2 separate regions of the Homo sapiens genome follow, and region 1 is reported to be linked to region 2. Evidence: microRNA targets listed by miRTarBase, many of them from high-throughput screens and not tested one by one. Region 2 holds a microRNA gene; the other region holds the end of a gene's coding sequence. Distances are between the middles of the regions.

What was found. Region 2 holds the annotated microRNA hsa-miR-6892-3p (UCCCUCUCCCACCCCUUGCAG, at 1,354-1,374, opposite strand). A microRNA usually pairs through its seed, bases 2 to 8, with sites in the 3' UTR of a target mRNA and lowers its output. Matches are read on the target gene's strand: a 7mer-m8 pairs with bases 2 to 8, a 7mer-A1 pairs with bases 2 to 7 and ends in A, and an 8mer does both.
Region 1: miRTarBase lists NUP42 as a target of hsa-miR-6892-3p. The part of its 3' UTR that is shown has no 7-base or 8-base seed match.

The regions. Positions count from the first base shown.
Region 1 is chr7:23,200,077-23,205,143 of GRCh38, forward strand. NUP42 (nucleoporin 42) reads left to right here. Exons shown (of 7, transcript NM_007342.3): 7 at 92-930. The coding sequence ends at 669. Among named protein-coding and RNA genes, the nearest start is that of NUP42, 21 kb to the left of the region's middle.
Region 2 is chr7:143,379,080-143,384,153 of GRCh38, reverse strand. MIR6892 (microRNA 6892) reads right to left here and starts at 1,468; the gene lies at 1,354-1,468. It overlaps ZYX (zyxin), which reads right to left and starts at 2,809. Exons shown (of 10, transcript NM_003461.5): 1 at 2,745-2,809; 2 at 2,375-2,597; 3 at 1,707-1,906; 4 at 1,469-1,561; 5 at 832-1,353. The coding sequence starts at 2,582. It overlaps FAM131B-AS2 (FAM131B antisense RNA 2), which reads left to right and starts at 3,129. Exons shown (of 2, transcript NR_161353.1): 1 at 3,129-3,888; 2 at 4,045-4,999. It also overlaps a transcript of FAM131B not described here. RefSeq lists silencers at 2,290-2,339, 2,370-3,399 and enhancers at 3,900-3,989, 3,113-4,013, 4,170-4,249.

The DNA of each region.
Region 1 (5,067 bases), 120 Mb from region 2:
AGAAAAAAAGATAGGGGGAGGAAATAATTGTGACATTTTTCTGACCGTAATAGATTTTTGTTGTTTTTTTTGTTGTTGTTGTTGTTTGTAGGCTTTCCAGTCAATAACAGCAGCAGTGATAATGCTCAGAACTTTAGTTTTAAAACAAACTCTGGATTTGCTGCTGCCTCTTCTGGAAGCCCTGCTGGTTTTGGGAGTTCCCCAGCATTTGGAGCTGCAGCCTCTACCAGTTCAGGTATCTCTACTTCTGCTCCAGCTTTTGGATTTGGGAAGCCTGAAGTCACATCGGCTGCATCATTTTCATTCAAAAGCCCTGCAGCTTCCAGTTTTGGATCACCTGGATTTTCAGGACTTCCAGCTTCCTTGGCAACAGGTCCTGTCAGAGCTCCAGTGGCCCCAGCCTTTGGAGGTGGCAGTTCTGTGGCTGGTTTTGGTAGTCCGGGCTCACATTCTCACACTGCTTTTTCTAAGCCATCCAGTGACACTTTTGGAAATAGCAGCATATCCACTTCTCTGTCAGCCTCAAGCAGCATCATTGCAACAGATAATGTGTTATTCACACCCAGAGATAAACTAACAGTAGAAGAACTGGAACAATTTCAATCCAAGAAATTTACTCTGGGAAAAATTCCATTAAAGCCTCCACCTCTGGAACTTCTAAATGTTTAAAAGGGCAATTTTAAATACAAAAAAGAATGATGTTTAAAATTGCTTTGAGTGATTCATACAGAGATGTATATATGCATACATGTATATATTCATAAGGAATATAAGCTTCCATCAATAGTGATTTTAAATTTGATTTTTTTCTTAACTCTAAATATTTAAGTAAAAAGTAACAAAAACTCTGCAAGCAAGGGAATTTTTTTGTACTGTAATTTTGAATGGAACTGAAAAATTATGCACGAATAAAGTACTTTTCTCATGCCATACCACTTTACTGTCTCACAATTTAAAGTTTTAAACTTTTTTTTTTAGGAAGGAGATAATTTCTGTAATTATTAGGGGGAACATGCTCAAATATTTAACCTACTTTTAGAGTAAACATTAGTAGCATGACTTCATGTTCAGGATTCTCTCAAAGAGATAAATCAGTTTGTAAAGAGTGACAAGCTTTTAGTTTTAGAACCATAGGGGCATTTCCCCCCCGATAAGTTTGGTTCCCTCTCAACTTTGGCGGTCTCGTGGACCACCATTTGAGTTTTCTTCAACAATCTTAGGCTGCTTTTTATTTTGGCCTCACTTTTATAGAATTCTATTTATTCATCACATTAGTCTGTCAAATGGATGAGTTGTAAGAGAAACAAATTGTGATCTCATGTGAATAAATAATGTGTGTAGTGGGGTCAGGATTCACCAGTTTCTGTTTCTAGATCTTCTCAGGCATGGCCAGGTACAGTAGCTCACACCTGTAATCCCAGCACTTTGGGAGGCTGAAGCGGGCAGATCACTTGAGGTCAGGAGAGTTCGAGACCAGCCTGGCCAACATGGTGAAACCCTATCTCTACTAAAAATACAAAAAATAAGCTGGGTGTGGTGGCGGGCACCTGTAATCCCAGCTACTCAGGTGGCTGAGGCAGGAGAATCACTTGAACCCGGGAGGCAGAGGTTGCAGTGAGCTGAGATCACACCACTGCCCTCCAGCCTGGGTGACAGAGCGATACTCCATCCCCTTTCCTGCCCTCCCCCAACAAAAAAAGAATTATTGTGCATGTTTGGATCTCCCTGTGTCCTCAGATTGAGGGAGTAAGATTTATATTTTACATATGGATGATCCAAGAAACTAAATGCCTGTCACGAGTTGAAGCAGGTATATCAGACTTCTGCGCTTTCTCAGTCCTCAAAAATTGCATAGCTAGCACTGCCAGAGCAGTTACTAACACGGTTCTGGCATTCAGCTGATTTTTCTAAGTGAATATAAAACCTTACATAATAAAAGATATGCCCTCCAAATGATTTTAACGTATGCAAAGGATTCAGTCCTCAAAAGACCTGCATTCTCCATTACACTTTTGTTGTTGTTCTTGTTGTTGTTGTTGTTATTGTTGTTGAGACGGAGTCTCACTCTGTCGCCCAGGCTGGAGTGCAGTGGCGCGATCTCGGCTCACTGCAAGCTCCGCCTCCTGGGTTCACGCCATTCTCCTGCCTCAGCCTCCTGAGTAGCTGGGACCACAGGCGCCCACCACCACGCCCGGCTAATTTTTTTGTATTTTTAGTAGAGACGGGGTTTCACCATGTTAGCCAGGATGGTCTTGATCTCCTGACCTCATGATCCGCTTGCCTCAGCCTCCCAGATTTCTGGGATTACAGGCATGAGCCACCATGCCTGGCTCCATTACACTTTTTGAGGAGCTGCATGACTCATCTGACAGTTCTGGAACCCCAGTGTTTGGTACAGAATCTATACTATAACCAGGGGATATATATTTGAAACCATGCTGGTGTAGAGATGGTAAATAGAGCATAAGTTCCTTTAGAAGGAGCAAGATTAAAACAAAAAGAGCATAAATTCCTTCTTTGGTCTCAAGCTCTACAGACTTTCCAGTATTCGAACTAATACTTGAATCCTAGAATTTTCCTGCCCCGCCCCCCCCCCCCCCGGGATGACCCCTACACTACCTCTAAATTGCATACAAGCTCCCTGAGGTCTCAGTTGAACTTCCCAGTGTCCTGGAAGATCTCAGAAAATCCTAGTTAAAAGCCCATTGTTTCCAACTGTGCCTGATTATAGGAATCACCTGGGGTGTTAAATAATATATCCAGATAACATATCCAAATTACAGGAGCTGCCCATTGGGATGGGCTTGGGAATATGTCAACAGGTATTCCTTGTGGTCCTTCAGGCAAGTTTGGGAAACAGGACTATCCAGCTGGATTTAGGCTACTTAGTAATACCTGATTTGGGAGTTTTAATTGTTGAAGTCTGTTTTCTGTGCTCCCATATAGACAAAAATGTGGGAATTTAACAGGATCCGAAGTTTTTTAAAAAGCACAAATAAGTGCTACAGGCTACTAAAAAATTTTGAGAAACTAAAGCAGAGAGGCCCACAAAGTAGAAACTAGCACCATGCATACATACTGGTGTCAGAAGTCAAGAAAACTGGTAACTCCCAGACCTAGGCTAAGGGGCATCGCGGCTTCAGAAAATCAGAAACAGGTAACAATGAGGTGGCAGCAGCTGGGTATAAAGGTAGGTTGAGTGTTCAGACCCCAAGAGGGAGGTAGTAGAAGGGAAAAGGCACCCACAACAAAAGGATGTGCCAGCATCTTCTGGATGGTATCTCCTAATCTCATATCCAGTGAGACTAGCAGAGCTGGACTAACTAAGAGGCATACCCTAAAATAGGCAAAAATAGCCTGCCTTCACAGCTGCTGTAATAGCTGTCCTTTTCACCTAAGGTCTAGAGCAAGTGACAGAATTGTAGATAAGGTATAGCAAATAAACTGATTTAACTCGATTGATTATCTGATCACAGATTAGAAGGGGAGAATGGTAACAGCTGAGAGCTGATTAAAAGGGGAGAGAAAGTGAGCTGATATTAAAACTAAAAGGTATAAAATGATTTAGCTATGCAGTATTATTCATGAGTAAAATAATTCAACTTGAAGCATCAAACAATGATTTAATTGTGGTAGATACATACATTGGAATACTAAACAGCCTTTCTAAATGACTTAATAGAGAATAACTTGGAAATGTTTTCATTCTGCAATCAGTGGACGAGAGTTTGCTATAAAAAGAGCATGTACAGTGTGATCCAATTTGGAGAGAAAGAATATATTAATGGGGGGGAGGCTAAAACTTAACAATAATAGCTCAAATTTTAGTGAGTTTTTGCTATGTGCCAGACAATGTCCTAAGCATTCTGTATCTAGTATATTAGCAAATTGCCTCATCACAACCATATAACCTAGGTGCTATTATAACAATTCTCATTTTCAAAATGAGAAGAGCAAGATTTGGAGACATTAAATGACCTATCCAAAGTCACTCAACTTCCAAGTAGTTGAGTTGTAATTCAAACACTGAATTTAAAGGGGCCATGCTTTAAACCACTCTGCTATACCACATACTAGATTATGAGGACACTTTGTCTTTTTTTTTTGTATTTTCTACAATAGCATTACCTTTATATGTTTCCCCCATTTTTCCTCATATGAGTACAATTTGCAGTCCCACCCCAAACTTACTGAATCAGTCTGTATTTTAACAAGACCCACCAAATGATTTGTATGCACATGAACATGTCAGAAACTATTTCATGTGTAAAGGAGATGTACAAAAATGTACACAGTATTGTTTATATAGCAAAACAGAAAGCACCAGAAGTCCATCCACGGGATAATGGATAAACTTTGGCATAATGGAATATAACTGTATAATGACTCAAGTTACTTGTATAAACAACCACCAAAAAGGGGGAAGGTACAGAATAGTATGTATGATATACCATTTAAAGTACAAAAGAGCAAAACAATACTGTAGTATTATGTATGGATTCATAAACACAGGAATAATAGCATGTGGATAATAAGCACTGATATGAGTTGGCTGTGTCCCCACCCAAAATCTCATCTTGAATTGTAATAATCCCCATGTGTCAAGGGCAGGACCACGTGGAGACAATTGAATCATGGAGCTGGTTTCCCTCATTCTGTTCCCACGATAGTGAGTTCTCATGAGATCTGATGGTTTAGGGGCTTCCCCCTTTCCTGGGCTCTTATTCTCTCTGCTGCCGCCATGTGAAGAAGGATGTGTTTGCGTCTCCTTCTGCCATGATTGTTAAGTTTTCTGAGGCCTCCCCAGCCATGCAAAACTGTGAGTCAATTAAACCTCTTTTCTTTATAAATCACCCAGTCTTTATTAGCAGTGTGAGAATGGACTAATACAAGCACCAAATTCAGAACAGTGTTTACCTAGGGAAAGAAAAAAAGAAATGGGATCTGAAAGGCACAGACAGGGAGCTTTATATGTGACTTAAAAAAAAAAAAAAGCTTAATATGAGAAGCATAAAATTTGACAGAGCTGGGCATGATGGCACAAACCTGTAGTCCCAGCTACTTGGG
Region 2 (5,074 bases):
CTTGGACTAGATGACCATCAGGGTCATCTTCGTCACCAGAAATTGGACGATCTTATTTCCTGAACTAGAAGGCAAGAACCATTTTGTAATTACAGCTTTTCTATTTTGAGCATTCCTGTACTAGATACAGAACCCAACACTCTCTAGGTATTAGCTCACCCAATCTTCACAACCACTGTATGGAGTAGAGAATGTTAAAGATTGAGAAACTGAGGCTCAGGGTTCACCTAACTTGCCCAGTCTAAGGACTTGGGAGAAGCTGAGCCAAGAATTCCATTCCAGGTCCATCTGACACCTGAAGGCTGAGCTTCTTGCAGAGATCTCTTCCCTCCCATGTCCTACCCTCCTGGGCACAGAGCACAGTGCCTGGCACGTGGTGGATGCTGGCTCAACCAGTGTTTACTGGGGCTGTCTCTTACCTCCAAGCCCTCAGGCAGAAAGAGTGCTCAGAGGAGCAGGGAGATTAACTCAAGACCCAAGAATGGGAAAAACCAAGGTGGAACTGGTGATCTCATCCCTCCCTTTAACTTTCTGGGGTAAAGGCACAAGGAAAGGTCCACCAGATCCTCCTAATTCAGAGCCCATGCTCTCTGCGCCGTCCCAGCCAGGCCCCACCCAGCCCCACACCCAGCCAGGCCTCTCCTCCAGAGGAGCATTTTCCTACCATTGTTCCACCAGGCTAACCCCAGAGGATGAAAATTCCTATCCCGCCACCCCGCAACCCCCGTGTCCACCCTGACTCTCCAATCACCTTATGCTTATGCTCTGGCTCCTGACCCAGCCCCGCCCCAGTGCCCTGGTACCAAGCCTTGTCCTATCACCATCCCTCACCTGGTTTTGGTTCTGAGCCGGTGGGGGCACGGGGTGCTGCTTCTCCTGCACTCGGGGCTTCTCCCTCTGCTGGGCATAGGTGAAGCTGGGAGGTTGAGGGGAGCCTGTGCCAGCAGAAAGAGCTTCGGGGTGCCCCAATTTTTGATTTGGTTGTGACCCAGATCCACCTGGGGCTCCAGGACTGAACTTGGAAGCCACAGGAGTAAACTTAGGAGTCACTGGAGAAAACTTAGGGGCTGGAGCCGGAGATGAGGCTGGGGGCCCTCGGGGCTGGGTGTTAGCCAAAGACACAGGCTGGGTCTGGGACTGGACATGGAGTTGGACCTGAGGCTTGGGCTGGGGCTGGGGCTGAACATGGAACTGTGTCTGGCTCTGAGCCGGAGCCGGAACCTGGGGCAGAGGCTGGGAGCTGGAAGGGGACTTCCAAGGAGGCAGGGGTGCTGTGCCCCCGGCTGCAGGCTTGGTACTGGACTTGGAACTGAATGGAGTGGCCACTGGTGGGGGCACATATCCAGATGACACCTGCAAGGGGTGGGAGAGGGAAGAGAGATGCAGTCAGGAGGACACCATCCTCCTTAGTTCTATGCCCAGTCTCTCTGGCCCTGAGCCCTGCTTTTCCTACTCTCCGGTCCCTTACCCGGGCTTTGAAAGGATCATTCTTGGTCATGTCATCCAGCAGTGAGGACAGAGAGTCGATCTCCAAATCAATACTGCTCACCTTCTCCCTGGGCTAGAGGGTCAGAGGTCAGAGCACCTATTCCATGCCTCTATCCCCCCACCCCCAAGGCAGAGGTGCAGGGGAGGTAAGAAGAAAGGGCCCTCTTCTCCTCTCCTTGGGGGTGTCCAGTGCAGCCGCCCCTCCCAGGCCTCCGTACCTGTGGTGGGGGCGGTATGGGGGCCTCAGGCCCTCCCTCCTCCTCCGGAGGAGGCGGCGGGGAAGGGAAGATCTCCTCCTCCAGAGGCGCAGGGGGAAATGATTCCTCGATCGGGGGAGGGGGCGGCGGGAAGGCACCTCCCAGAGCACCCTCTGCATCGTCGCCATCCCCAGCAAGGGGAGGTGGAGGCAGGGGAAAGTCTGGGGTAGGAAGGAGAAAGACGTCGGCCGGGGTCCCTCTACCCCTCACCCAAGCTCCCCTCAGTTAACCGCTCTAACCCCTAACCCAAGAACTCTCTCAGGGGTCCCAGAGCGTGTGGGGAAGCAAAGGAGGGGCGCAGGGCGCCCTGGGAGTACCAGGTCAGGAAAGGCCGGGCGCACTGCCGAGGAGTGGTGCAGCTCCCGTTACACTTCGGAAAACGGACCCGGAGGGGAAGATTCGTGCCCCACATTCCCGACTCCCACTCCCAGGCGGGGGACTTGGAACGGTCCCAGGAGCCCTGGCTCCCAGCCACGAGCTCCACGATGAGGTAAGAACATCTGCTCGGGACAGGGTGGCTGCGCCCAGCCCCCTCGGCAACAACCTTTCCAGACATCCCCAAATTCCCGAAACGACTGCCCCCCACCCCGGCTCCTGCCGGGGTACATTCCCCAAGCCCCGCCGCATACCTTCCGGGGGCGGCGGGGGAATCTCGCCCACCCGGCCCATCTGTGCGCGCTGGGCCCCGGGTGCCGGGGGAGGCTCGCTGTCCCCGGGCCGGAAGGGATTCACTTTGGGCTTTGGGGCCACCACAGGGCCGAACTTCTTCTGCGGGGCGTAAAAAGCCGGAGCCGAGACCGAAACGGAGATCGCGGGAGACGGGCGGGGGGCCGCCATGGCCGGGCCGGGCTGCTGGGGTGGGTCGCCGGGTTACGCAGCGCGGAGCCGGGCTCAGGAGCCCCAGGCGGTCCCAGCTCCCCTTGGTGACCCCCACTCGCCCCCTCCCGGCGCCCCGCGCCCCCTCCCCGTGGGGCCGCCCTGCCGCTCCCCGCGCCTCACCGCAGGCCGGAGCGTGCGCGCCGCGTCTCGGGTGGCCGCCTCGGCGCCGGGTCCGCAGACTCTGCGTCCCGGTCCGGAGCAGCCTCCAGCCGGGCGGGGAGGGACACACGGAAGGAGGAGGGAGGGAGAAGAGAGGGGGCGGGGAGAGAGCGGCGCCCAGACCATACAAGGAGCGGCCCGGAGAGGGGGCGGGGAGAGCGGGGAAGGGCGGACCAGGCAGGAAACTCCCCCAGGAAGGGGCCCTGATCCTGCCTCAGGCCGGAGGCTCCGCCGAGGTCCGCTCGCCCCCACCCCACTCACTGCCGCCCCCGCCGCCCCAGCCCGGCTCAGACCCCCACTCCCTGAGCACAGGCCTCTGATGTCATTTCCTGACCTGCCTCCCCCTCCCCGCCCGACCCGCGGGTGCCCGAGATCTGACTCACCGTCCCCCTCCGGGCTTAGCCGGCGGAGGTGGGGCGGGTGCCGCCGAGGTAGCCACGCAGCCCCTGTGCGCCTCCGGCCCGGCCCAGCGACCTCCTCTCGGGCCTGCCGTTACCCGGTCCCCTCCTGCCACCACCCGCTACCCGGCCACCCCGAGTCCGCCTGGGGTGGCCGAACGTATGGAGCTGGGCTCCAGGGTGCACGGGGATGGGGGGTGAGGAGCGGGGCGTTCTCCCTCCCAGCACCCCCCAGCTGACTCTGTGCCCGGAGGGGGTGTGTGAGCCGGAACCTCCAGCATTCTTGGGGATACGAACTTCCAACGCTGGGCAGCCTCTTAAGGCTTCTAGGAATTCGCATCCCCAGCGCCCCAGCCAGCAGATCGGTTGCGAGAGGGACCGTTCGGGTCCGCGGGGCCGGGAATGGAGGTGGGAGGGCGGGGCCGAGGCGGCGGCCGCCTGCGGACTGGAGACCCGGGAGGACGGACGCGGACGCGGGCTGCTCGTCTTTTACGGCCCTTCAACGCCCACCACGACCCACTCCTCTTGGAGACCCCGGGCGACGGTGGGGCTCTTGGGCATTCTGAGACTGCGCTTGGTGGAGACCCCGGGCGACGGTGGAGCTCTTGGGCATTCTGAGACTGCGCTTGGTGGAGCCCCCTACTGGCCAGACTGGATTTCTCAGCCTGCGACTCAGCCCCAGGCTACACGAAAGAAGCCAGACCTGGGTAATTCTTCTAGTTCTTTTTTTTTTTTTTTTTAATTGCACTGGGAAACTTCCCCAATCTCGGCCCCAGTTCTTTCTCCAAACTAAGGAGTCATGGCCTTTCGCCCGCTAGTCCAGTATGCACCCGTAGGCGCTTCATTTTCTCTCCTCTTGTCAGCTTTTACTGCCTCCTGAGGCCTTCGTCTTGTTCACACTGAGTGTCCAGTCCCTCCAAATCCGGCTACACTCTACTGGCAAGGAGCACCTGGGCCATGTTTTAGAGATCATCCGAGGACTAACCCCAAAAGTTTATGAAGAGAAAGCAGAGGCCGAGCTGAAGAGATGGACCCGGGTCACACCCAGGTAAAGGCAGGATCTAAACTGAAACTGGTGTCAGATCTGGTTGCCTTGCACCCCTGATATCAGGTGAAGCAACACTGGGCAGGATAGAGCAGAGTGAGGTCAGAGTGTGAAGATCCAGCCTGATGCCCAAACTGACGCCTCTTCATTCTCCCCTGCTCCATCTGTAAACGTCACGGTTAATCCATCTACTTTATTGCATTATATAGAGAAATAAATGAAATGTCATAGCTGTATGCGCTATATGACTCAGTATTATTATTCAAATTCCAGTTCTGCCCAGAATGAAAATTCTGACCTGGTTACACTAAGGCGTTTTCCCCCATATGTCCCTTTCTGGGTTGCCAGGCAGATCTCTCAGGGGCCTCGGTATGTGCAATGTCCTCTCTTTCCTTCAACCTTATTAAGTCTTTAATTATACCTAGGACGACATCTTAATCACTTTTGCAAACCCCACTGATCTTTTTCTCTGGCATCTCATTGTCTTTGTCACCACCAGTATTTCTCACAGCCACAGGCATGTGTGGCCATGTATGATGGGTAGTACGCAGTGCACACCTCTCTGACACGCTCAAGCCAGCCCTGGGCCTGTCTCTGAAGACATGTTAGAAATTTGATACTGGATTTCCTGTGCATGTTGGAGATTGTGTCTTGGGCTTCACAGACCAAAAGTCTCATCACAAATCCTTCAAAATATGGCCCCTTTGGGGAAAAAAAGATAGTTAAGAAGATGATTTCAAGATAACTCATAGGAATAAAAGCTATCTACCCTCTAAATGTCTCCTTAAGTAATGTGCGCGTGCAAAATAGAGTATGTGTAATTGTTAGGCAGCTGAACCTATTTTTAA